Homo sapiens: one gene and its partners. The protein of the gene in region 2 interacts with the protein of the main gene of each other region in a pairwise test. Each region holds a gene or a part of one and is shown on either strand. Other genes may lie near its edges.

Evidence for each region. Proteins that work in one complex are often made in the same cells at the same time.
Region 1: the proteins of NUMB (region 2) and DNAJC5 come close enough for resonance energy transfer, tested with the Homo sapiens proteins (one study listed by BioGRID).
Region 3: the proteins of NUMB (region 2) and REPS1 interact in binary tests that used the Homo sapiens proteins (3 or more experiments, as listed by UniProt).

What each region holds. Positions count from the first base shown.
Region 1 is NC_000020.11:63,926,014-63,933,705, forward strand, and holds part of DNAJC5 (dnaJ homolog subfamily C member 5), read left to right. Parts: intron 1-158; exon of another isoform or gene 159-974; intron 975-1,288; exon of another isoform or gene 1,289-1,309; intron 1,310-2,321; 5' UTR 2,322-2,332; coding exon 2,333-2,439; intron 2,440-3,298; coding exon 3,299-3,512; intron 3,513-4,837; coding exon 4,838-5,009; intron 5,010-5,451; coding exon 5,452-5,555; 3' UTR 5,556-7,692. UniProt on the Homo sapiens protein: Acts as a general chaperone in regulated exocytosis. Acts as a co-chaperone for the SNARE protein SNAP-25. Involved in the calcium-mediated control of a late stage of exocytosis. May have an important role in presynaptic function.
Region 2 is NC_000014.9:73,280,280-73,287,971, reverse strand, and holds part of NUMB (protein numb homolog), read left to right. Parts: intron 1-657; coding exon 658-862; intron 863-3,597; coding exon 3,598-3,891; intron 3,892-5,466; coding exon 5,467-5,613; intron 5,614-7,692. UniProt on the Homo sapiens protein: Regulates clathrin-mediated receptor endocytosis. Plays a role in the process of neurogenesis.
Region 3 is NC_000006.12:138,984,674-138,992,937, reverse strand, and holds the start of REPS1 (ralBP1-associated Eps domain-containing protein 1), read left to right. Parts: upstream 1-4,684; 5' UTR 4,685-5,255; coding exon 5,256-5,408; intron 5,409-8,264. UniProt on the Homo sapiens protein: May coordinate the cellular actions of activated EGF receptors and Ral-GTPases.

The DNA of each region.
Region 1 (7,692 bases), on a different chromosome or scaffold from region 2:
GAGATGGGGTTTCACTGTGTTAGCCAGGATGGTCTCAATCTCCTGATCTCGTGATCTGCCCGCCTTGGCCTCCCAAAGTGCTGGGATTACAGGCGTGAGCCACGGCGCCTGGCCTTCTGGGGATTTTTTATTACAAATATAACTTTATTAACAGATGCAGGCCTATTCAGATTTTCTATTTCATGTCAGTCTTGGTAAATTGTAATTTTCAAGATATTTGTCCATTTCATCTAATTTTTCTAATTTCTTGGCATGAAGTTGTTCGTATTTTATCCTTTTCACGCCTCTAGGATCTGTAGTGATGTCTTTCCTCATGTTGCTCAAAGAACCAACTCTTTTGGCTTTGTTGAAGTTATCTGTTTGTTTTCATGGATTTCTGTTCCTTATGATTTCCTTGCTTGCATTTATGTTGGGTTTATCCTGTTACTTTGTAGCTTCCTGAGGCGGAGCCTTAGGCCTTGATTAACGTGTTGTACTAGTCAGCATTCTGCAGAGGAACGTTGCCATTATCTGTGTCTCTTTCTAAAGGAGATTTGTTATGAGGAATTGGCCCACGTCATTATGGAGACGGAATCTCATGCTCTGCCATTTGCTGAAGATTGAGGAAAGCAGTGGGATAATAACAGTCCAAGGACAGGAGGAGACACGTGGCCCCGCTCAGGCTGGCAGGCGAGAAGGAAAACCCAGGCCAACTCCTCCTCCCACCCCTTTCTATTCGGGACCCCCGTGGACTGGGACGACACTCACCTGCACAGGGCAGCGCAGTTGGCTTCATGGAGCCCCCAGCTCAGGTGCTGCTCTTACCAAGAAACACCCTCCCAGGCACACCCTGAAGTCATGTTTCATCTGGGTGCCCCACGATGCAGCAAAGGAGACATGAAATTAACCGTCATGTACACTGTATTTATTATTCAATTCAAAACATTTTCTAAGTTCCCCTGGGATTTCTTCTTTGAGCTACATGTTAGCCGGAGGTGTGTTGTTGAATATCAAGAGTATCTTCCTCCTGGGTTTCCAGTTTGTAGCTAAGTCAGGGATAGTGCTGTGTGTGACCTCATTCCATTACGTTTATTGAAACCAGCTTGAAGCCCTAACATGTGGCTTGTCTTAGTGTACAGCATTCAGTTAAAAACAATGTGTGTTCTCTAGATGTTGGGTGTTCTGTGACTGTCACGTCATGGTGGTTGATTAGTTAGAAACAATGTAGAAACAATGTGTATTTGCCAGGCGCTGTGGCTCACACCTATAACCCCAGCACTGTGGGAGGCTGAGGCAGGCGGATCACCTGAGGTCGGGAGTTCAGCCTGAGGTCGGGAATTCAAGACCAGCCTGGCCAACATGGAGAAACCCCATCTCTACTAAAAATACCAAAATTAGCTGGGTGTGGTGGCACATGCCTGTAATCCCAGCTACTCCTGTGTGAGGCTGAGGCAGGAGCATTGCTTGAACCGGGGAGGCGGAGGTTGTGGTGAGCCGAGATCGTGCCATTGCACTCCAGCCTGGGCAACAAGAGCAAAACTGTCCCCCCCCCCAAAAAAGAAAGAAAGAAACTGTGTGTTCTCTAGATGTTGGGTGTTCTGTGAAGATCAGGTCATGGTGGTTGATAGTGTTGTTCAGAACATCGATGTTTTTCCTGATTTTTGGTCTGTTCTGTCGATTTCTGAGAAAGTATTAAAATTAAAGTTGGGTCTTGCATTTTTATCCATTCTGTCAGTCCCTTACTTTAATTGGAGTTTTTTGTCCACTAACATTGAATTTAATTGTTGATATGTTTGGATTTAGATCTTCCAACTAATTTTCTATTTGTTTCCTGTGTTGAGTTACTTTTTCATTTTTCTTGTAACTTTTTAGCTTATACCTCTTTGCATTTTTTATGCAGAGGTTGCTGTAAGGATTACAATATGCATGTTTATTTTAATTAATTAATTTATTTTGTTTATTTATATATTTGTTTTTAAGGAACAGGGTCCCTGTCTCCTGGGCTCCAGTGCAGTGGAGTGATCATAGCTCACTGCAGCCTCAAACTCCTGGGCTCAAGCGGTCCTCCCGCCTCAGCCTCCCAAAATGCTGGGACTACAGGTGTGAGCCCCTGTGCCGGCCCACAGTACACAGCTGCAGTTCTTCAGGATCTCTTGGGGTGGCCGTATTCTGCCGTCTCACACTTCTCCATGCCATGGCGTCTGTCTGTGCACGTGGCAAACTCCACAAGGCAGTGTTGGATTCTTTTGCTTTGAACGGTCTTATGGAATAAAGTCCATCAGCTCTGCCCTTGGTACTTTCATCTATACTTTGTGATACTTTCTTTTTATTTTTTCTTCTAGAATAGCCTAACATGGCAGACCAGAGACAGCGCTCACTGTCTACCTCTGGGGAGTCATTGTACCACGTCCTTGGGTTGGACAAGAACGCAACCTCAGATGACATTAAAAAGTCCTATCGGTAAGTGGACAAGTGTGGCCCCCACATCCCCCCAGGAAGACACACATGCCCCGTGTGGTTTAGTCTGCATTTTACCAAGAACCATTGCACATACTTTATCCTGGCCGACTCAGCGTTGAACTGGTCACAGCTCGGTAACACCTTTGTATGTGTAATGTGCTCCTTATAGCTTAAAGTTATGGTATTCATGTTCTCTTGCCAACAAAAAATAGCACTTAGTAGAAACTGACACACTGTCCACAGTTCCATAGGGAGTCAGGGTCTGAACCTGTTTGAGGCCTCACAGGAGCCGCAGAGCGCTGGCATGGTCCTGTGGTCTCCTTGTTTTAGCACAGTGATGACAGAGACCCCTCACTCTGTTGTGGCCTTCTGATTGAGCTTGAAGAACTGCACTCTTGGGTACAGTTTCATTGAGTAACCTGTAAGAGACACCATCACTAATCCAGACAATTCAGATAGTCCTCCTCTCGTGTGCTAGCATCGTGTAGTTCATAAAACACTTCTTAAAGTGCCATCATTACGCCCCGCCGTGCTTACCGTTCACTTGGCACTTGTGCAGTTAGCGGCTGGGACACCAGGGCTGGCCTTGGTGCCGCTGAACTTAGATGTGCCGTGGCACTCACAGCCCTTGGGGCTCCCTCCTCTGAGGCTGGGTCAGGGTGAGGAGGTTTACCTGAAACAACCGCGGAGCTTGCTTTTGTCCCTGGCCCCTGCAGCCCTGGAGAGTCGGACAGTGAGGTGGCCTGGGTGGACCTGCCTTCCACTGCACCCGGCAGTGCGTGCGGGTGGGATGGACGCGGCGGCGGGTGCGGGTGGAACAAAGTCCAGGGTAGAGCCAGGACATGGTTTTGGTTTGCAGGAAGCTTGCCTTGAAATATCACCCCGACAAGAACCCCGACAACCCGGAGGCCGCGGACAAGTTTAAGGAGATCAACAACGCGCACGCCATCCTCACGGACGCCACAAAAAGGAACATCTACGACAAGTACGGCTCGCTGGGTCTCTACGTGGCCGAGCAGTTTGGGGAAGAGAACGTGAACACCTACTTCGTGCTGTCCAGCTGGTGGGCCAAGGTGAGGGCGAGCTGCCTGCCGTGCGGGCACCCGAGTCACTCCTGCCGTGCGGGCACCCGAGTCTCTCCTGCCGTGCGGGCACCCGAGTCACTCCTGCCGTGCGGGCACCCGAGTCTCTCCTGCCGTGCGGGCACCCGAGTCTCTCCTGCCGTGCGGGCACCCGAGTCACTCCTGCCGTGCGGGCGCCCGAGTCACTCCTGCCGTGCGGGCACCCGAGTCTCTCCTGCCATGTGGGCACCCGGGTCACTCCACGCCTGCAGGGTTCCCAGCATTGCAGAGCCCATGCGTTGATGCCAGCAACTCTACACTCCTGAGAAAAGGCTTCTGGGCATATGGAGCCTTTCTCCTCACCTGTGTGATGGGCGAAGCTCTGTCACTGGCTTGGTGTCCTGCCTGGAACAAGCCATAGCGTACAGATTGTCCCAGGGAAGAGCCGTGCGGAGCCGCCAGGGTTTCTTCTGTAAATGGCTCCCAGTCCTTCGTGAGACAGGAGGAAATAAGCCTCGATGTTACATCCGCATTTCTTCGTTTCCTCGTTTTGTTCCAAATGTCATATATGAGGCCAGAGGGTTGGAATCACTGCATGGCATTTGTGAGAAGCCTGTATTTGGCTTTGACTGGTCGGCCTCCTCACTAGAATCCTTATAAAGTACTTTTTATTTAGTTAATGTTAGACAGAGTCTCGCTCTGTTGCCCAGACTGGAGTGCTGTGGTGAGATCCTGGCTCACTTTAACTTTGAATTCCTGGGTTCAAGTGATCCTCCCACTTCAGCTCCAGAACTGCAGGAGTTGAGGCGTGAACCACTGTGCCCAGCCTGGAGGCTGCTTTGTTTTTTTTTTGAGACGGAGTCTCGCTCTGTTTCCCAGGCTGGAGTGCAGTGGCGCGATCTTGGCTCACTGCAAGCTCCACCTCCCGGGTTCACGCCATTCTCCTGCCTCTGCCTCCCGAGTGGCTGGGACTACAGGTGCCCGCCACCACGTCCAGCTAATTTTTTGTATTTTTAGTAGAGACAGGGTTTCACCGTGTTAGCCAGGATGGTCTCGATCTCCTGACCTCGTGATCCGCCAGCCTCGGCCTCCTGGAGTGCTGGGATGACAGGCATGGGCCACCACGCCCGTCTTGGAGGCTGCTTTTCTTTAAGCTGCGGGTTTCTTTCTGTCTCTCCTCCTCCCTTCTTCAGTTCTTTCCTTCTGCTTCCTGTCTGGAAGGCAGTATCCCCACCTGGAACGCACCCCCTGCCTTCTGCTGAGGGCATTTGGGAGTCCTGCGCCTCCCTCTCCAGGGGCCTCGGAGGCCATGCAACACCACCTTCTTCTCCCCCCAGGCCCTGTTTGTCTTCTGCGGCCTCCTCACGTGCTGCTACTGCTGCTGCTGTCTGTGCTGCTGCTTCAACTGCTGCTGCGGGAAGTGTAAGCCCAAGGCGCCTGAAGGCGAGGAGACGGAGTTCTACGTGTCCCCCGAGGATCTGGAGGCACAGCTGCAGTCTGACGAGAGGGGTGAGTGCCCGCCCCAGGGCCCGTGTGTGTGTGTGGGGCAGAGCCAGAATGGGCCCTGAATGGTGTCAACCTGTCTTGTCAAACAGGAGGGCACTGACACTGTGCCGCGAGTGTTTGTGGTGGCAGCTGGGACTGTTGAGGTGTGAACGTGGACCCTGAGGTAAAGCAGGCGCATAGAGCTGTCCCCGCCGTGACCTGCGGTAGCCGTAGATCCCAGGGACTGCGAGGCGGGGCAGGGCGGCAGGCAGTTGGGGCGGGGCTGAGGGCCGAGGGCTGGCGGTGACCCAAGGCGACGGAGGAAAGCCGTGTGGGGTGGAGGTCAGCGAGTAGCCTCTCCCGGTGGAGAGTTTGTCCAGGTGCCCGAAAGTCGCTCCACAGGACCAGCGTTGGGTGCGCGCCAGGCTGTGGCCCTCGTGCAGTGCCCTGTGTGCTTGCTTTTCAGAGGCCACAGACACGCCGATCGTCATACAGCCGGCATCCGCCACCGAGACCACCCAGCTCACAGCCGACTCCCACCCCAGCTACCACACTGACGGGTTCAACTAAATCCAGGAGGAGCTGTGGTCAGAGGAGGAGCCGGCGCCTGGCCACGCCAACCTTAGAATCATGAACTGTAGTCACAGAGATGGGAAGGCAGCCTCCTGCCTGCCCTGGCCTTGCTGGGGCCCCTCCTGCCTCCACGCCCACCCAGCGTCGACCCTTGACCCACGAAGTGCGTAGCATGCAGTATTTAAAGCAGTGTAGCTACGGTCTTCTGTTTTTTTCCCTTTTTTAATAGCATGTATGGGGTTCTGTTCCATGTCTGTGTTGTGGACATTCCGCGGCATGACCGCGTGAACTGCACGGTGGAGCTGCCTCAGGGCTGTCGGTCAGGTTGGTCCAGTGAGGGGTGACTGCAGCCGGTCAGGTGGGCGAGGAGAAGGGGGGCTGCCCCTTTCCTACCTGTGCTTGAGGGGCCGGAGGCAGGTGCTGCCTGGCAGAGCTGTGTTACCGTCTTGGCCTCGGGGTCTGGTCCACACTCTGTGCTCCCAGCCTTGAGGCTGCAGTAGGACTCTGATCTCACCTGCCAGAAGAGAGGCGGGGCCGCGTCCTCCTGGCGTCACCGGCGTCACTGTCATTCCTTGGTGTCTGTGCTGGGCATGGTTGGCTTGGGGGTCTGTGGTTTCCTGGGCCTTGTGGCAGGGTTTCTCCCGTGGGAGAATTTGGTGTGGAAAGCATAGGAGGCCCCTTCCGAGGTTGACACCGTGTCCTCCGCGGTGTTTCTCGCCTGGTCGTCTCGTCGTGTGGACGCTGCCGTTCTGGTTCTCGGAGGTGTGTCCTTCGCCGTGTTGGGGTTATTTGTCTGTGTTCCTGCACTTTTCCCGGGCTCTGAGCTGGATTGATGGGGCCAGTCTCCCCCCTCCCATCTTGAGGTCGTTCTCCACATTCCTTCCAGCACACCTGTCCTTTCCATAGCCCTTTTTGGACCTTTAGAACCACAGATGATAGGACCAGCCCAATGAGCCACAGTCAGAGAGTAGATTGTGCATGTGTGAGCACCCAGCTACTGGGGACGGGGGCTCTCCCACGACCCCTCCTCCTGTGTTTGCCAGAGCTCCCATCTGCCCCACTCGCCTTTGCCCCGTCATCGATGATTCAGGCAGAGCCAGATTCGTTAGGTCCCTGGAGGAAGGACTGACTGGACCAGAGGGACCCTCTGGCTCAGGAGGGTTGGGTCCCTGGGAGGCCGGCAGCCAGGCCACAGAATCCACACGTGGACCATTGTGGGTCCCTGGGAGGCCGGCAGCCAGGCCACGGAATCCACACGTGGACCATTGTGGGTCCCTTGGGAGGCCAGCAGCCAGACTACGGAATCCACATGTGGACCATGGGAAGTCAGTCTCTTGCGTGTCCTAGACCTTGTGGGTGGCGCCCTGCATAGGGGAGCAGGGGGAACGGGTCTGATGTCCCTGTGCTGGCTGAGGGCTCAGAGCTGCCCGCACTCCGTAGCTCATGGGATGTGCTGGGCCTGCCTTTGGCGCCATGCTGCAGACTCCAGTGGGCCTGGTTTCTGCAGAATGTCCATGGTGGCCGCTGCAGAGTTGCAGAGGTCCCTGTAGAGATAAAGCTGAGGAGGAGGCTGTGTGTGATGGCTCTGGCTCGGACCAACCAGATGAGCCTCCTGAAGCCCCCTTCCCTGCCTGCCTGCTGACCCGTGGCCCCAGCTCACTCATTGCCCTCAGCAGCCACCCGAGGCTGTGCAGAAGGGTAGGTTCAGGTTGACCAGGAAGCTGCCAAAAGGGACATGGATATGAGGATACATCTGGACGTGCTTAGGAACAGGGTGCTGGTTGAGGGCCCCCAGCTGACCCCTACTGCAGATCCGCATGTGGACCATGAGCCGGCTGCCAGCACTAGGTCCTGGGCAGCTTTGTTTGTCCCACTTTTCTTTGTTTCTTCTCACTAAAATGATCACGAAGACCTTTGACAAGAGGAGAGATATGCACTGTGATATTAAATTAGAAATAATTTATCAAAATCAGACCTCTCCTAAAAGAATAAGAAATTCATTGTTTGGCCCATCCTGAAAGGTGAGGTGGCGAGACAGTGGGGTGCCTCCGTGCCGCTTCGTGCAGCAGCAAGTTCAGCCTGAGATGCTGGCTGTACTCAGCCTTTGCAATTTTTGTAGATGTAGCTTAGGACG
Region 2 (7,692 bases):
CAAAGGGCAACTAGAAGCTTGCATGTCAAGGCTTGAAACCTTGCATAGAGTCTTCTAAGCTGTTGGCCAGGGCTGACATGACAGAGCCTAAGTGATAAAGAGTTCTCCATGGCTGCTTACAAAAGCACAGGTTGCTGGTTATCACTTTACCCCAAGGCTTGTAACAGTGAATTGAACCATCATAAGCACTACCTTAGAAAATTTATTCATTTAAATTAATATGGCATACTAATCTATTAAAACAATTTTAAGCTGGAATTTGCAACATCTTGCTTTCATAAAAACAGACATTTGGGCCGAGTGTGGTGGCTCATGCCTGTAATCCCAGCACTTTGGGAGGCTGAATTGGGTAGACCACTTGAGGCCAGGAGTTGGAGACCAGCCTGCCCAACATAGCAAAACCCCATCTCTACTAAAAATACAAAAATTAGCCAGGTGTGGTGGTGCGTGATTGTAGTCCCAGCTACTCAGGAGGCTGAGGCACGAGAAGTATTTGAGCCCGGAGGCAGAGGTTGCAGTGAGCAGAGACTGCGCCACTGCACTCCAGCCTGGGTAACAGTAAGACTCTGTCTCAAAAACAAAACAAAACAAAAGACTTATTTGTATGTAATTGTTAGTAGTGTAATTCTGAAAAGCTTTTAAAATCTGCTCTTACAGGGTGAAAGGTTGAGCCATGCAGTAGGCTGTGCTTTTGCAGCCTGTTTAGAGCGCAAGCAGAAGCGGGAGAAGGAATGTGGAGTGACTGCTACTTTTGATGCTAGTCGGACCACTTTTACAAGAGAAGGATCATTCCGTGTCACAACAGCCACTGAACAAGCAGAAAGAGAGGAGATCATGAAACAAATGCAAGATGCCAAGAAAGGTACAATCTGTTCTACAGTGTGTATTTATGGAATGCAGTTTTTCCCAACAAGGTATTATTTTGAAGCTACCAGGGGTAAATTTTCTCATAATCAAAGAGAACCCTTAGCAATATAAAACCTTATAACAAAGTTGAAAATCTTAAAAACCGCTTCCTTTAGAGTGGCTAGTTTAATGGCTTCAAAAATATTTACTCCATTATAGTAAGCTATCTGAGGAATCAGAGTGCAGTTGAAGAAGCTGCAGAGACATCTCTTACCCCCTTCCTCCCATCCTGAAATACCTTTTTAATTCTGATGTATCTGATCTCTTTGAGAAGCAAATGAATCAAGTACCTGCATCTTAAAGGAAGCAGCAGAGGTCCCAGGGCTTAAGGCTGCAAAGCATCCACGGACTATGATGCTAGCAGAGAGATTTAACAGTAATACTGTTTATATGATATTATTGCTGTTTTTTAGTGCTTTCTAGTCACAAAAGTCTATAGATTTTGAGAGGTAAGCCTATAACTCTTTTTTTCTATAGCCCTGTTAATTTAATTTAGTGTGTGATTTTATAGAGTGTGAGTTTTATTTAGGTACACATGGCATCACAGCAGAAATGCCTGTACAAACATTCAAGTTAGTTGGCAGTCTATAAATGTGAGTTGGGTATATTTTACAACTAAATGATAGGGCTTGAAAATACTTTTGAATTCTTGTATATAAGTAGGGTTAAAACCAACAAGACAAGCACAAACAATTCAAGTTAACTAATAGACATTAATATAATTTTGAGGCCAGGTATAGTGGCTTACAGCTGTAATCTCAATACTTTAGGAGGCTGAGGAGGAAACATCACTTGAGGCCAGGAGTTTGTGACCAGACTGTGCAACATAGACTCTATCCCTTAAAAAAAAAAAAAAAAAAAAAAAAAAAAAAAAATTGCCATATTTGGTGGTGCACATCCGTAATCCTAGCTGCTTGGGAGGCTGAGACCAGAGGATTGCTGGAGCCCAGGAGTACAAGGTTACAGTGAGCTGTGATCATACCACTGCACTCCTCCAGCCTGGGTAACAGCAAAACCCTGTCTCTTAAAAACAAACAAATATATATATATGATAATTTTTTTTACTATAACCTTTTAGTTCTAAACTAGTCATTTTTGTTGTTGTTGTTTTGGTTTGATTTCGGTGTTTTTTTTTTTTTTGAGACAGAGTGTAGTTCTGTTGCCCAGGCTGGAATGTAGTGGCGCAGTCTCCGCTGACTGCCGCCTTCACCTCCTGGGCTCAAGCGATTCTCCTGCCTCAGCCTCCTGAGTAGCTGGGATTACAGGTGAATGCAACCACACCCAGCTAATGTTTGTATTTTTAGTAGAGATGGACTTTCGCCATGTTGGCCAGGCTGGTCTTGAACTCCTGACCTCAGGTGATCTGCCTGCCTTGGCCTCCCAAAGTGCTGGGATTACAGGTGTGAGCCACCGCACCTGACCTTAAACCAGCCCTTTTGGTTAGCATCATTGACTAATACTGACCCAAACAGCTCTAATTCTTAAGCCCCCTCCAAAAAAAAAGCATACATATTTTTATTTGAAATGAAATTATTGATAGTGATTTTTTTTCATTTCTTGTAAATATTTGCACCAGGAAGCCAAAGGGGGGAAAAATCATGCTATCTGTACTAGAAAATTTAACCTGTATTACTGTTATCTAATATGCTTTAGTGGTCTTCAGACTATTCACTAATTAAGCATGTTCTTTAATACCACCAAATAATATTCATTGTTATGCACAACAACTGCAAAGAGATTGAGTCCCAAGATCTACAAAGGATTGTGAGAGTTGGTGGTTGAGATTTGTCACAATCAGAATGGGACTCAACTGGTACCCACAGTCTTACATTTACTCAAATTTAATCCAGTTCAAAATTTTACTACTGCATGCTTTTATTCAAATGAACCACAAATGCATGATTTAAAGACTGCTTTAGGTCGGGCGTGGTGGCTCATACCTGTAATCCCAGCACCTTGAGAGGCGGAGGCAGGTGGATCACCTGAGGTCAGGAGTTCATGACCAGCCTGGCCAACAATGGTAAAACCTCGTGTGTATTAAAAATACCAAATGAGTTGGGCGTGGTGGTGTGCACCTGTAATCCCAGCTACTTGGGAGTCTGAGGCAGGAGAATCACTTGAACCTGGGAGGTGGAGGTTGCAGTGAGCCAAGATGGTGCCATTGCACTCCAGCCTGGACAAAAAGAGCAAAACTGCATCTCAAACAATAAATAAATAAATAAATAAATAAATAAAGACTGTTATATATGACATTCTTTGACACCTAATCAAAGATATATGGTTAAGCTTATGCTTATTTAGACCTTTCTAATGCTACAGTTCCCAAAGTTCTCCTCCCCTAACACACAAGCATTGAAAATCATGAATCATTCTTTAAAAGACTACATATTAGGAATTCATAGGAACTGAGTTTTTAAGATCTTTTTCACAGTCTTAATTTATAAATCACTGAATGAGAATAAAAGATCTAACATTTCTGTCTTAGTAGATATGCTTTGTGACATATAGTACATTACTAAGCCTTTTATCTGTCTGAAAAATGGATCCGAACCCTGCTTCTAACTTATGTTTTAAGAGACACTGGGAAGGAAATGGGTAAAAGGACCTAGAGGGCTTTCGAATTTGTCAGCTCTCTAAACGCAAATTATTTGAAGACATTGCTAAGGTCTTCATTCTCTTTATTTTCTTGAGCTGAAACAGATAAGATAGTCGTTGGTTCATCAGTTGCCCCTGGCAACACTGCCCCATCCCCATCCTCTCCCACCTCTCCTACTTCTGATGCCACGACCTCTCTGGAGATGAACAATCCTCATGCCATCCCACGCCGGCATGCTCCAATTGAACAGCTTGCTCGCCAAGGCTCTTTCCGAGGTTTTCCTGCTCTTAGCCAGAAGATGTCACCCTTTAAACGCCAACTATCCCTACGCATCAATGAGTTGCCTTCCACTATGCAGAGGAAGACTGATTTCCCCATTAAAAATGCAGGTAATGTAGCATCTACCTGACTCACTGGGTACTCGAGCACTGAAGCATTCTCATCACTTCCCATGAAGACACTAATCCCATTAAACTAGGCATTCCTCTTTCCCTGAGGTTCGTTGATAGTTGTATCTTTTGTCATTTCCCATAGTGGGAAAACTAAGGTCCGTGGAGGGGGATGTGAATCCATAATTTCTCTTCAACAAACAGGCAGCAGAGCCATTGTGGAATTTCTAGCCTAAGCCATAAGATTTGTGGTTTGTCCTGATGTAAGTGCATTCACTGCCTTTCAGCCAACCTGCTCCCAAACATCAAGGGTCTCAAGTTTCTATTCTTATTCTGCCATTGGGACCCAGCAGGGAATTAATTAAAGAGGCCTTAGAAACACATAGCATTACCAGCAGAAGAAATGGATATGTGCTCATTGTCCTTCTGGCTGGTTGGCTCCATAAGGAGGAAACTCTAGACAGGTCTTTCGTGTACATCTAAGATCTGTTGTTCATCACAGACAGTGGACTTGTTCACAAGTATTCATTACCTTTCAGAACCGTCTCACAGGCCTTTGTGTGGCCTCTGTACAGCTATGCCAGCCTCTATAGGTCTATCCTCGTCATAAAATCTGTAGCTAAAGTATTAGATCTGGTCAGTGCTTTTGTTGGGCTCTATTTTACTTCCCTCTGAGACATGTCAAGCCATTGCTATAACAAAATATGAGGAAACTGTCTCAATAGGCCATTCCTACTGATGGTATAAAAGTACAGAGAGTTAAGTTCATCTGACAGATGAAACTAGGCCTAAAGAATAGTTGGACTAGATGATTACGGAGGGTCTTTTCAGTTCTCAGCTGAGGTACCTCATTTCAGTTCAGTCTCCTTCTAGGGCAGACAGGGAATAAAAACTATTATTCTCTTTACAGATGAGCAAACAGAGCTTTAGCACACATAATTAGCTTCCTCAGTGATACAGAAGTATCCTAGAGTCAGTATTAAGAATAAAGGCCCTAGCGTCCTACACCTCTGCTCACTTTTTCATGTTATCATAGATCATATGCTTAGTACTGGAGACTTTGGAGAAAAATGAGATTGATGACATTGTCATAGTTTGTTACAGAGAAAAGCACTAAGCATCCACTAGTGCCCAGACTTGAACCCATTTTCCTGACAGAATTACTAAAGGCTCCAGAACCTAATTCAGATCACAGTCTTGAGAACACGTTGGAAGGCATACAGGTTGCAAATGTCTTCTACAAAGATCTGGCTAGCTGAACATCTTGGCACAAAAAGGACAGATCCTCAACAGTGTTATAAGAAGAAGAAATGAAGAAATTTGGGGATTTGTAAGGGAGGAAGATGTGCCTTAGTACATTAATTGTTGACATTTTATACTTTCCCATCTGAAAAGCCAATGAAATTGTGGCCAGTAAATTTTTTGAAACTGGTTTTGTAGCCCTGCCATACAGTTAATTGAGCCTTTTCTTACATAAGCAGGAGATACAGTATAAAGTGCCAGCTTGCATCATACTGTCAAATTTCAGGATTATTCCATTTTTCTGTCTGGAGCCATTTTCTGTTTGCCTTGCAGTGCCAGAAGTAGAAGGGGAGGCAGAGAGCATCAGCTCCCTGTGCTCACAGATCACCAATGCCTTCAGCACACCTGAGGACCCCTTCTCATCTGCTCCGATGACCAAACCAGTGACAGTGGTGGCACCACAATCTCCTACCTTCCAAGGTTGGTGCCCTCTGACCTGCTCAGCTGTTCTCTTTACAACCAGTACTTTTAGTACACTGCTCACTAACTGTAAGTTGGCATCCTGAGCTTCCCAAGGCCTGGTCAGACCCATTAATTTCTCTATTTGATGTCTTAGATTCATTGATTTCTCCATTCGACGATGTCTTTGTGCCCTTCCTGTTTTCTAAGATGTCTGTGTTTGTCATTCTGCATGTGCCCATCTTTCACCCCATTCTATAAGGAATTTCTGTAGTCCCAACCTACTGCCTTATTTCCCACTTGACTGTTAAGGATCAGCATACCCATCCAGTTTCCCAAAAGCAGTAGTCATCAGAATTGGTTCAAAGGTTATGCTTTCTTTAGTGTAGTGGTTCTCAACTGGGGCAAAGTTTGTCTTTCACTGTCTGGAGACATTTTGGGGCTTTACAAGTTGGGGGTTGGGGGTGTTACTGGCTTGTGGTTAGATGCCAAGAATGCCACTAAACATCCTTCAGTGTAGACGACAGCACCCACAACAAAGGATTATCCAGCCCAAAATGTCAGTGGTGCCAATGTTGAGAAGCCCTGGACTCACCTAGTCTCTGCCCTGTCAAAGAGGCTAATAAAGAAAAAGGCACTCCTTTGAGCTCTTTAGTTCATCTTCTATAACAAGTGTCTTAAAATTTGCCTTTGTGGCATTGAAGAGTTAAAAGTTGTTTTCAGAGATACTGACTAAATAGTGGATATTGACTCAGAGGTCAGCAAAGAATTTATGTAACTTAAGTTACAGACTTGTAGAATTTGAGCTGCTATAATTGCTGTTTCTCCATTTCTTTTGAAAGAGAGCTCAGCGGAAGTTTTACTCCAGAGATAGTGCCCTGCTTCTACTGGAAGAACTACACACTTTTTCTCCAAGGGTCTTTTTCTTTTTCTTTTTAATAAACCTTCATAGTCATGTGTACCAAATGACTTTTCATGTCATCTAACAAACATTTATAATACCGGTAATAATAGGCACCATTTATTGAGCACTTACACATTGCTTGCCACATTGTGGTAGGTATTCATGCATTATTTCATTTAATCCCCACAACAAGCCTGTGAGGTAGGTGTTACAGATGAAAAAAAAAAAAGAGGCTCAGAGAGGATAAGTAAATTGCCCAAATCTTACAGACAGGATTTAAACTCAGGTCCTCCTGAATATAGTACCCGTTACATTCTGCTGATTCTGCCAGCCTACAAGGCACTAAGTGTGCAAAATTGAATATTTCAGTTTCCTTTCCCTGCCTTTAGAGGGCTCCCAGTTTCTAGGTGAAAAAAAAAATTTTTTTGCCACCAAAAAAGCAAAGGCAGTCTTTTAGACAAACTCTAGGTAAACAGTACCAACACCGGCTGGGTGCGGTGGCTCACATCTGTAATCCCAACAGGGAGGCTGAGGCAGGCGGATCACCAGAGGTCAGGAGTTCGAGACCAGCCTAGCCAACATGGTGAAACCTCGTCTCTACTAAAAATACAAAAGTTAGCCGGGCATGGTGGCAGGCACCTATAATCTCAGCTACTCGGGAGGCTGAGGCAGGAGAATTGCTTGAACCTGGGAGCCGGAGGTTGCAGTGAGCCGAGATCACACCATTGCACTCCAGCCTGGGTGACAAGAGCGAGACCCCATCTCAAAAAAAAAAAAAAAAAAAAAAAATAGTACCAACACCATAGGCATGGCTGTCCAGTCCTAAAAAGGATATAATTATATTGTAGGTCAGGGGAGGGTGCTTGTCTACACCAAACTGAATGTTATTGAGAGCTGGGCTAAGGAGAAGAAACTAATATAGGTATCTGGAGTAAAAGGAACAAGGGTTAGCAGATTTTAACAAGGGGAGATGAGGAAAGAATAGTAGGTATGTTGTGATATTGTAAACATCATAGAGGGGGAAAAAAATCTTTGTTAAAAAATGTTCTGTGAGTTACCAGGAGAGTTAAAAAAAAAAAACCTTCAAAAAAAGTTGAAATTAATTGTGTAGCAAATTAGAAATCTATCAAGCAAATGAAAACATACCAACTTCGATTTCTCATCTGTAATAGGGGGATAATACCAGACTCGTAGGG
Region 3 (8,264 bases), on a different chromosome or scaffold from region 2:
TTGTTTGTTCTTTTTTTTTTTTTTGAGACGGAGTCTCGCCTTGTCACCCAGGCTGGAGCACAGTGGTGTGATCTTAGCTTGCTGCAACCTCTGCCTCCCGGGTTCAAGCGAATCTCCTGCCTCAGCCTCCTGAATAGTGGGGATTACAGGCGCACACCACCATGCCCAGCTAAATTTTTTTTTGTAATTTTAGTAGAGGTAGGGTTTCGCCATGTTGGCCAGGCTGGTCTCGAACTTTTGACCTCAGGTGACCCACCTGCCTCAGCCTCCGGAAACGTTGAGACTACAGGTGTGAGCCATCGCGCCCAGCCTAGGGTGCATGCTTATTTGAGGACTGGAACGTGAGAGTGAAAGGACAGCATGTTATGGACTGAGAAAGAAGTTTCAGAGTTCCAGAACTTGGAAGTGAAGCAATCCTATAATTACTTTGGGTTGCTAAAGAGGAGTGGTGCTGGAGGTTTCTAAGGTTAAGGGTGCAAAACTAGGAGGAGATTAGAAGGTAACAGGTCCTTCAATAGCAACATTGTTTCATTATAACATTGATGAGAAAAAATAAATGCATTCCCCGTAGGCACCACTGTCTGTGTGAAGTCTGCATGCTCTCCCTATGTCTGTGTGGGTTTTCTCTGAATCCTCAGGTGTCCCTCCACATCCCAAAGATGTGCACATTAGATAAGTCAGGGTGTCTAAATGGTCCCAGTCTGAGTGAGTGTGGATGTGTGTGTGTGTGTGTGTGTGTGTGTGTGTGTGTGTGTGTGTATACCCTGTGATGCAATCACATCCTAGACAGGGGCTGGGTTCTACCTGTCCCATGAGCCACTGGGATAGGCTCTTGCTACCCACAACCCCGAAATGGAATAAGTAGGTAGGAAAATGAATGAATATAAGTGACTGAAAAATAAAAATGTGTAAAGCATATGATGATCATACAGATGCAAAACAGTAAACAAGGTGGTGCCAGAGAGCTCAGCAAGCCACCATGTTTGTGATGATTTTGAACTTCACTTTGCAGACATTTATTCCTTGATTTAACCCACCACCAGGACAACCGTGGTAACTCACCAATATACCAAAAATAGGGTAAGTAGTTATTTTTTTTTTAGTTAATCATTTTAGTTGCATGTGTAGCTTACCTTTACTTAAATGTTTAATATTAGAAGTGTTTTGGTCTCGATTTAGAAATTTGGTGATTCTGTGACCAGAAATATGTCACAGCAACTTAACTCTTGTTTGTAGCAAATTATCAATTAGCCTATGATAAAATTGGTTTCGTGATACCGTAACCAAGTGCAGCCTTGGCTGTTTGCCCTTTGCAAACCCAATAACAAGGGGTGAAAGGAAAGTGACTTTATTTTTCAAAGCTAGCAGTGGGGAAACAGCCAGCTTACACCTCTGGAAACTGCTTCAAAAGTCTGGGCTGAAGGCAGAGGTTTCAAAAAGGGAACCTTGATATGGGAAACATGCAAGAGTTGTGCCGGGAGCCCGGGCTGTGTGTCTTGCTTCAACGCCTATCTTGAGTTATGGTCCATCTAAAATGCAGGCTGGCGTCATCTCGCCTGTGGCCAGGCTGCAGATTATCTATCTTGAGGCAATCTTTAAGTGGGGGACAATTCTGCAGCTGGGCCTTTGTGCCTAGTTCATTTTAAATTAGCCCCTGGAATTTTTAAGAAGCATACAGTTAGATAAATGTGCATTGGGTAAGGGAGTACATTGTGGGAAATAGAAGGGAGTGGAGTTTCAAAGTATGTTTCAAGGCTATATTTTAAGACTAAAGAGAAAAGGTTTCTACAGTTTGTTTCAAGGTTACAGCTTGAGACTGGCAAGAAAGGAGAAAAGAAAAAAGTTTTCTTTTGAAGCTAAACTACTTGGTTAGAATACCTTGTTTTGCTTAAAATTAGTTTCCACGGACCTATCCACAATAACATTAATTGAGGACTTACTGTATTGAATGGCTTATCACATCAATGTCAAAATTGATGCTTTCATTCATTCAACAAATTATTATTGATACACATTATGTGTCACATACTGGGCTTTGGCACTGTGGCAATGAAGAAATATTTTCCTTCTTTTCTTGCTTGCTTGCTTTCTTTCTCTCTCTCTTTCTTCTTCTTCTTCTTTTTTTTTTTTTTTTTGATACAGAGTCTCGTCCTGTCTCCCAGGTTGGAGTGCAGTGGCACAATCACTGCTCGCTGCAGCCTCTATCTCCTGGGCTCCAGTGATCCTCCCACCTCAGCCTCCCGAGTAGTTGGGACCACAGGTGCACACCATCATGCCTGGCTATTTTTGTATTTTTGGTGGAGATGGTGTTTCACCGTGTTACCCAGCCTGGTCTTGAACTCCTTAGCTCAAGCAATCCACCCACCTCAGCCTCCCAAAGTGCTGGGATTACAGGCATAAGCCACCATGCCTGGTGAAGAAATATTTTCTTAATAACAAACTTAACAAAGAAATTAGACAGGCAAGATAGGGTAGTGATTTTTAGAGTTGAGACAGCCTGGAGTTTGAATCCCAGATCCGGGTATTTAATAGCAACATGACTTACACAATACTTAACCCATTTTGCCTCAGTTTCCTAATCTGTCAAAAAAAAAAAAAAACCTAGTAGTACCACTTAATAGGGTTGTTGTGAATAATGTGGTTATTAGTGTAAAGCTTTAGAACAATGCCTGAAACTTAGTAATTATTCAATAATTAGCCGTTAAAAATGTAACAGCTATATATGTAATGTCAGATAGTGAAAAGTGTTATAAAGAAAAAGAATTCAGGTTGGGTGCAGTGGCTCATGCCTGTAATCCCAGCGCTTTGGGAGGCTGAGGTGGGTGAGCCCAAGAGTTTGAGACCAGCCTGGGTAACATGGCAAAACTCTGTCTCTACAAAAGCCACATACACAAAATTTAGGTGGGCATGGTGGCCTGGGCCTGTGGTCCCAGCTACCTGGGAGGCTGAGGTGGGAGAATCACCTGAGCCTGGGAGGTCGAAGCTACAGTGAGCCAAGATTATGCCACTGCACTCCAGCCTGGGTGACAGTGGGAGACTCTGTCTCAAAAGAGAAAAAAAAGGAATTCAGATAAGGGGATAGTGCATGGTGGGATTATTTTACAGCAGCTGTTGCAGGAAGGCTGCTCTGAGGAGGTGACATATGAGCAGGGACCTGAAACCATATGAGAGAATACGCCATGCCATGGTTTGTGGAAGGACTATTTTAGATGGCAGGAACAAAGGCCCTGGGGCCGACAAGAGCTGCAAGGCCTAGGAGAGGTGGCAGAGAAAAAGATGCAAAGACAATTGTGAGCCAATCCCTACCCCATTGTGCTCTTTCTGTTTACACCTTTGGAAGGCAGCTGTCTGGGGGGGGTCTGATCACTTGCTGCAGGTGCCCTGAAAGGACACATGAGGGGCTGCTGTAGCAAACTGAAAGTCTTAGAGATGGGAAATAAGCTTAATGGATAGTATATACTTACCTTTATCAAATACTACTAGTCAAGTCAGAAGACATTGACAGGTCTAAAATCCCTTATCTTTCTTAAAAAATAGAAAGATAATAGAATGCCTGTGACTGTGTACATATTAACATTCTACAAAGACCTGGAGTGAAATGAGTAAATATTGACACTAAGTGGGATCCATAAAGGCTAGAAATAGCTTCATGCAAGCTTAGTTTAGATTTTGCCTCCAAATGAGGCAGGGCAGGTTTTACTTCCAAAGGGTTACAAAAAAAAGTCTTTGGGTTTTCAGTGCGCTTTGAATTTTGCAATTACAGATAAATGACTGGGAACCTGTAATAATTTCCTCATATGTGTCATTTATAGGATCCGCACTCTGGGAAACAACTTGTAGAAGACAAAATAAAAACCAGAACTCTGGGTAATTCTGCCTTAGCTCCCGTCTTTGAAGTATTTTATATTTGCTAAGTATAAATTCTTAAGATATTCTACTTGAAATAGCTGAAGAATCCCCTCTCTGGGACAGGTGCAGATTAAAAGAGCGCCACTCCATGATTTTCATAAAGGAGAAAATACGGAAGGCAGCCCCTGTGGGCAGCCCCGGGCCTACATGAGTTGATAGAGTTGAAGGTATAAATGTAGAGTATTAAGTTCCCAGTGACCGGAATGACCTGGTGAACAAAGAGGACAACTTTGCCAGTTTTCCCCTCTATTCAGCACATTTTGTTTCTCAGGTAAACATGGCTTGAAGCACGAGTGAGATGAAGCCTCAATGTTGGTGTCTACGTGGAGGCTTCCCGGATAGCCAGGATGTTCATAGCCCGGATGTTCATAGCCCTTCAGAACAGATGGAAATACTGCATTTATCTTCATCTGTACCGAAAAGGTACAGATAGAATGATAATAACCTGAACAAGGCTCCCCTTTCAATCCAATTATTCAGACGCTTAGGACCAGAAACTGCGAAACATAAAAACTGCAACCCGGATCTTAGTTATCTCGGTCTTAATGAGCTGCCGGCTGTTTCCCACTGCACCCCCCTTTCCGGGGGTCTTGCTGCTGAGATCTCCGCGCAGAGGGCGGCTCGGTCATCCCGCCGCCGGGCGCCGGCCACCAGGGGGCGCTGCGGCCTCCTCCCTCTCCCGGGAGCGGCCAAGCCAGCCCGGTGGGTGTTTCTCTCTCCCTCTCGCGCTCTCTCCTCCCGGCCTCACATCCGGGTCTGGAGCGCGGCCGCCGCTGTCACTGTTGGTGCGGGCGCGTCGGGGCCGGGCCGGGGCACTGTAAATGGCGGCGGAGGGAGGCGGAGCGGCGGCCACGCTCAGCCCAGATCCCCCGAAACTTTAGGTTCGAAGCCCCACAACTTTCCGGGAAGCGCTGCCGCTCCGGAGGCGTGGACGGAAGGGGAAGCCGAGGCGGGAAGTCTGGGGGAATCGGCAGGGAGCCGGGGAGACTCGAACCCGCGGCGGGGGCGGAGTCCGCCAGTGCCTCGCGCCTCCGCGGCCCCCGCCTCTTTCTCTGCACCCTCCCCGCGGCCGGAGCCGGAGCCGGAGCCGGAGCCGTAGTCGCAGCCGCAGCCGCAGCCGCGCGCCGGGCCTCGCAGGCAGCGGCGCGGCGAGCGCAGCCGGGCCCCCTCCTCGCGACCTCCGGGCCCTGTTGCTCGGGCGCACCTGGCGCGTGTGAGGCCGGGGCCGGCGTTTTCGGGAAGCTAGCAGGAGGCCGGGCCACGCGCAGCCCCTGCCGGCCCAGGTTCCTGGGGCCGGGCCCCGAGTAGTGCATGCGGGGCGGGGCGGCCGTGAGCCGGAGGCGAAGATGGAAGGCTTAACGCTGAGCGATGCGGAGCAGAAATACTATTCAGATCTCTTCTCCTACTGCGACATTGAGAGCACCAAGAAGGTGGTGGTCAACGGGCGGGTGCTGGAGCTGTTCCGGGCCGCGCAGCTGCCGAACGACGTGGTCCTACAGGTAACGTCGCGTCCCGGGGCCGGCGGGCGGCTTAGGCCTGCAGTCACTGGCCTCCAGGAGTGGGAGTGGGCGCCGATTCCTTGGGGCCCGGCGGGGGGCTGGTTCCTCGGGGGGTCCCCGCAGCGGGCAGGGGCCGCAGGTGCCCGGGAGGCCTGGACTCGCGCCGCGGCCAAGGGGGAGGGGGTTGCCCTTAGAGGACGGAACTCCTGTGGTGGGGGTCTGAAGAGCCTCAGCCGGTATCCCCCACGACCCTGAGAATCTGTGCTCTGTACTGCAAGAGCTATCTCACTTGAAGGATCTTAGGTTGTTAATGTGTGTGAATCCTAGAACCTGGCATATAGAGAGCTTTTCGGATCCTGCAGAGTAGTAAAGTTATCAGTATGGGCAAAATGGTTTTTTTAATTCTTGGATTAACCGAGAAGACGTGATAAAGTGAGTTCTATAGATTTAGGAATCGAAGAAGCAGTTTTTTTAAAGGAAGCAAAATTCTTAGGGAAATTTTTTAAAATGTGAACTACTTAGTAGTTTTACAAGTAGGCATACAAGAAGTTGTAATTATCTGTAGAACGTGTGTATGTGATGAGACTGAACAATGTTTTTCAACAGGCATTCGAAAGCATTTGTGGAACTTGTGGATTTGGGTTGGGAGATGAGTATTGAACAGCTGGTAGGCAGAAGTGCGTTATTTGCCCTAATCTGAAGCCCTGGAGGAGCAAACCCTGTAGGTTTAAAGCCTTTTTTTATCATATCTGCTTTTGAAACAGAGGACTTCCTAGAAGTTCTTATCTAATGTATGTGGTGAGCATTAATGCTACTCTGTTTAATGATTCATAGCTGCTAGTAGGAGTCTGTCTAAACAGTATGTTAGGAACAGGTTTTAAGCTTTCATCTTTTATATTGATCCAAGCTAGTTATCCACATCTCCAAAATTTAAAGCCACATGTATAGGTGTATGTAGTGGACTGCAAAGCATTGGACCAGGGTTTTGAAGGCTGGGTCCTTGACCCTACTCTGCTGTTAACCAGCAGTGTGACTTTGGGTCAGGCACTTTCCATTTTCAAGCATAAGTATGTTCATCCACAGAATGAAGGCAAGTTTCTTCCAACAAAAATTCTGTGAAGAATAAAAATGTCCACACACAGGTCTCTGTTTTAGAAGTTAAGTCTGCATTAACTATGACTAAGTTGAACGAGTTCGATCTTTTTAAATGGTCTTGTGTTTTACATTGCTTTTTTAAAGGTGGGATGTCTTACGTGCCAGTGAAGGGCAACGAGGAGTCCCAAATTCATCCTGTTGAAAAGGGACAAATAGTAAATATTTTGGGCTTTGCTGGCCACATATGCTCTCTGTTGCATATTCTTCTTCTTGTGTTTACAAAACACAAAAATGTAAAGCCATTCTTAGCTCAGGGAGATACAAAACAAAGCCTGTGGTCTGCTAACGAAGGGTGCTGGTAGTGTGGTCTATGGTACTCTCCTGTTACAGCTTTGGAGTAGGACTTAGAGATCTGGTCAGAACATGCTCATTAATCATACTCTTTTTGCTCCTTTTGAAGAAATAACAAAGTATACCTTCAAGTTAGGATCTAAATAAAATTAAGGAAAAGCCTTCTCTGTTCTATTTTAGTTTGTCTTTGAGGTGAGAAAGAGTTGAAATAAAACTTTCAATCTTTTTAATGGGTACACAAAGACTTTAGAACTTGAAATGTAATTTTTAGGACAGACACATTAGCATTAATGAATCTTTACTTCAAACATGTTTAATTCAGTGCAAGTTATTTTTATGTTTTGCTCAATTTTATTAACATTCAAAAAATAAATTTCCATTGTCTTTTGGCATAAAGAGAGAGCTTAAATATTCAGGGTTCAGTTACAAGTTGGAACTCCCTGGAGCAGAACTCTTACAGTTATGTATACTAAATAGCAGTCTAGATATCTTGAAGGCAATTTACTTAAAAATTGGTCTAAGACATAGAAATATGAGACAAAAGGAGAATATGTGCTTAATTCCCTTAAGGGAGTTTGGGATTGTCTGAAAACACAGTCCTCCATTGCTTTCTAAGTGGGAAACATTTGGGGCAGCTCATATCTAATGCTTAGTTCTCTACTTAACACTGGGCTAGGCATTGCAGGCATCAGAAGAGGAGTAAGAAGCTCTTGAGGATCTTGTCAATTATAGGAGTGCTCATGTATAACATAAGGTATAATGTATGCCATAGGAGAGGTGCCAAGTGTTATGAAATGCTAAGGAGGTATGACCAAGAAAGGCTTTTTGACTTAATTCAGATGGACTTTAAATTAGGGTGGAGTGAGGGGAATGGAATTATGAGGGCTTCCAGGCAGAGAAAAGTGATCAGAAGTGGAAAGTGTAGGAGCCTTTTCAAGGACTAGTGTTTTCGGGATAACAGAATATAAAATTAGAAAGAGGCCATATTGGGAAAGACTCTGAAGAAGGGCAGCAGATAACGATATTTCAGCAAGCAATGGAGACCCATTGAAAAGTTTTTGACTTTGAGTGGCAGAAAGGGTAAGGAATGACACTCTTTCAGTGGTCTGGATTGGGTGCTAGGTCATGGACATCCAACCAGGGTGACAGCAGTAGAATAGAAAGGGAGAGACTGGATATGTTATTGAAGGACTGCTGGGTAGCCACTATATGAGGTGCTTTGTGGAATAATGTTTAATTGAGGCCAGATTATCAAGGTTGGATGGAGAGCTTTGAACTAATTGTGTAGGTAACAGGGAGTGGTAGATTTAAGAGAAATGACTCATAAAGCAGTGCTTTAGGAGTCGTTTGTCAGGGCCACAGGAATTAGAGGAATAAAACTGTAGACTTAACTTGGGGGCTGATTTTGTA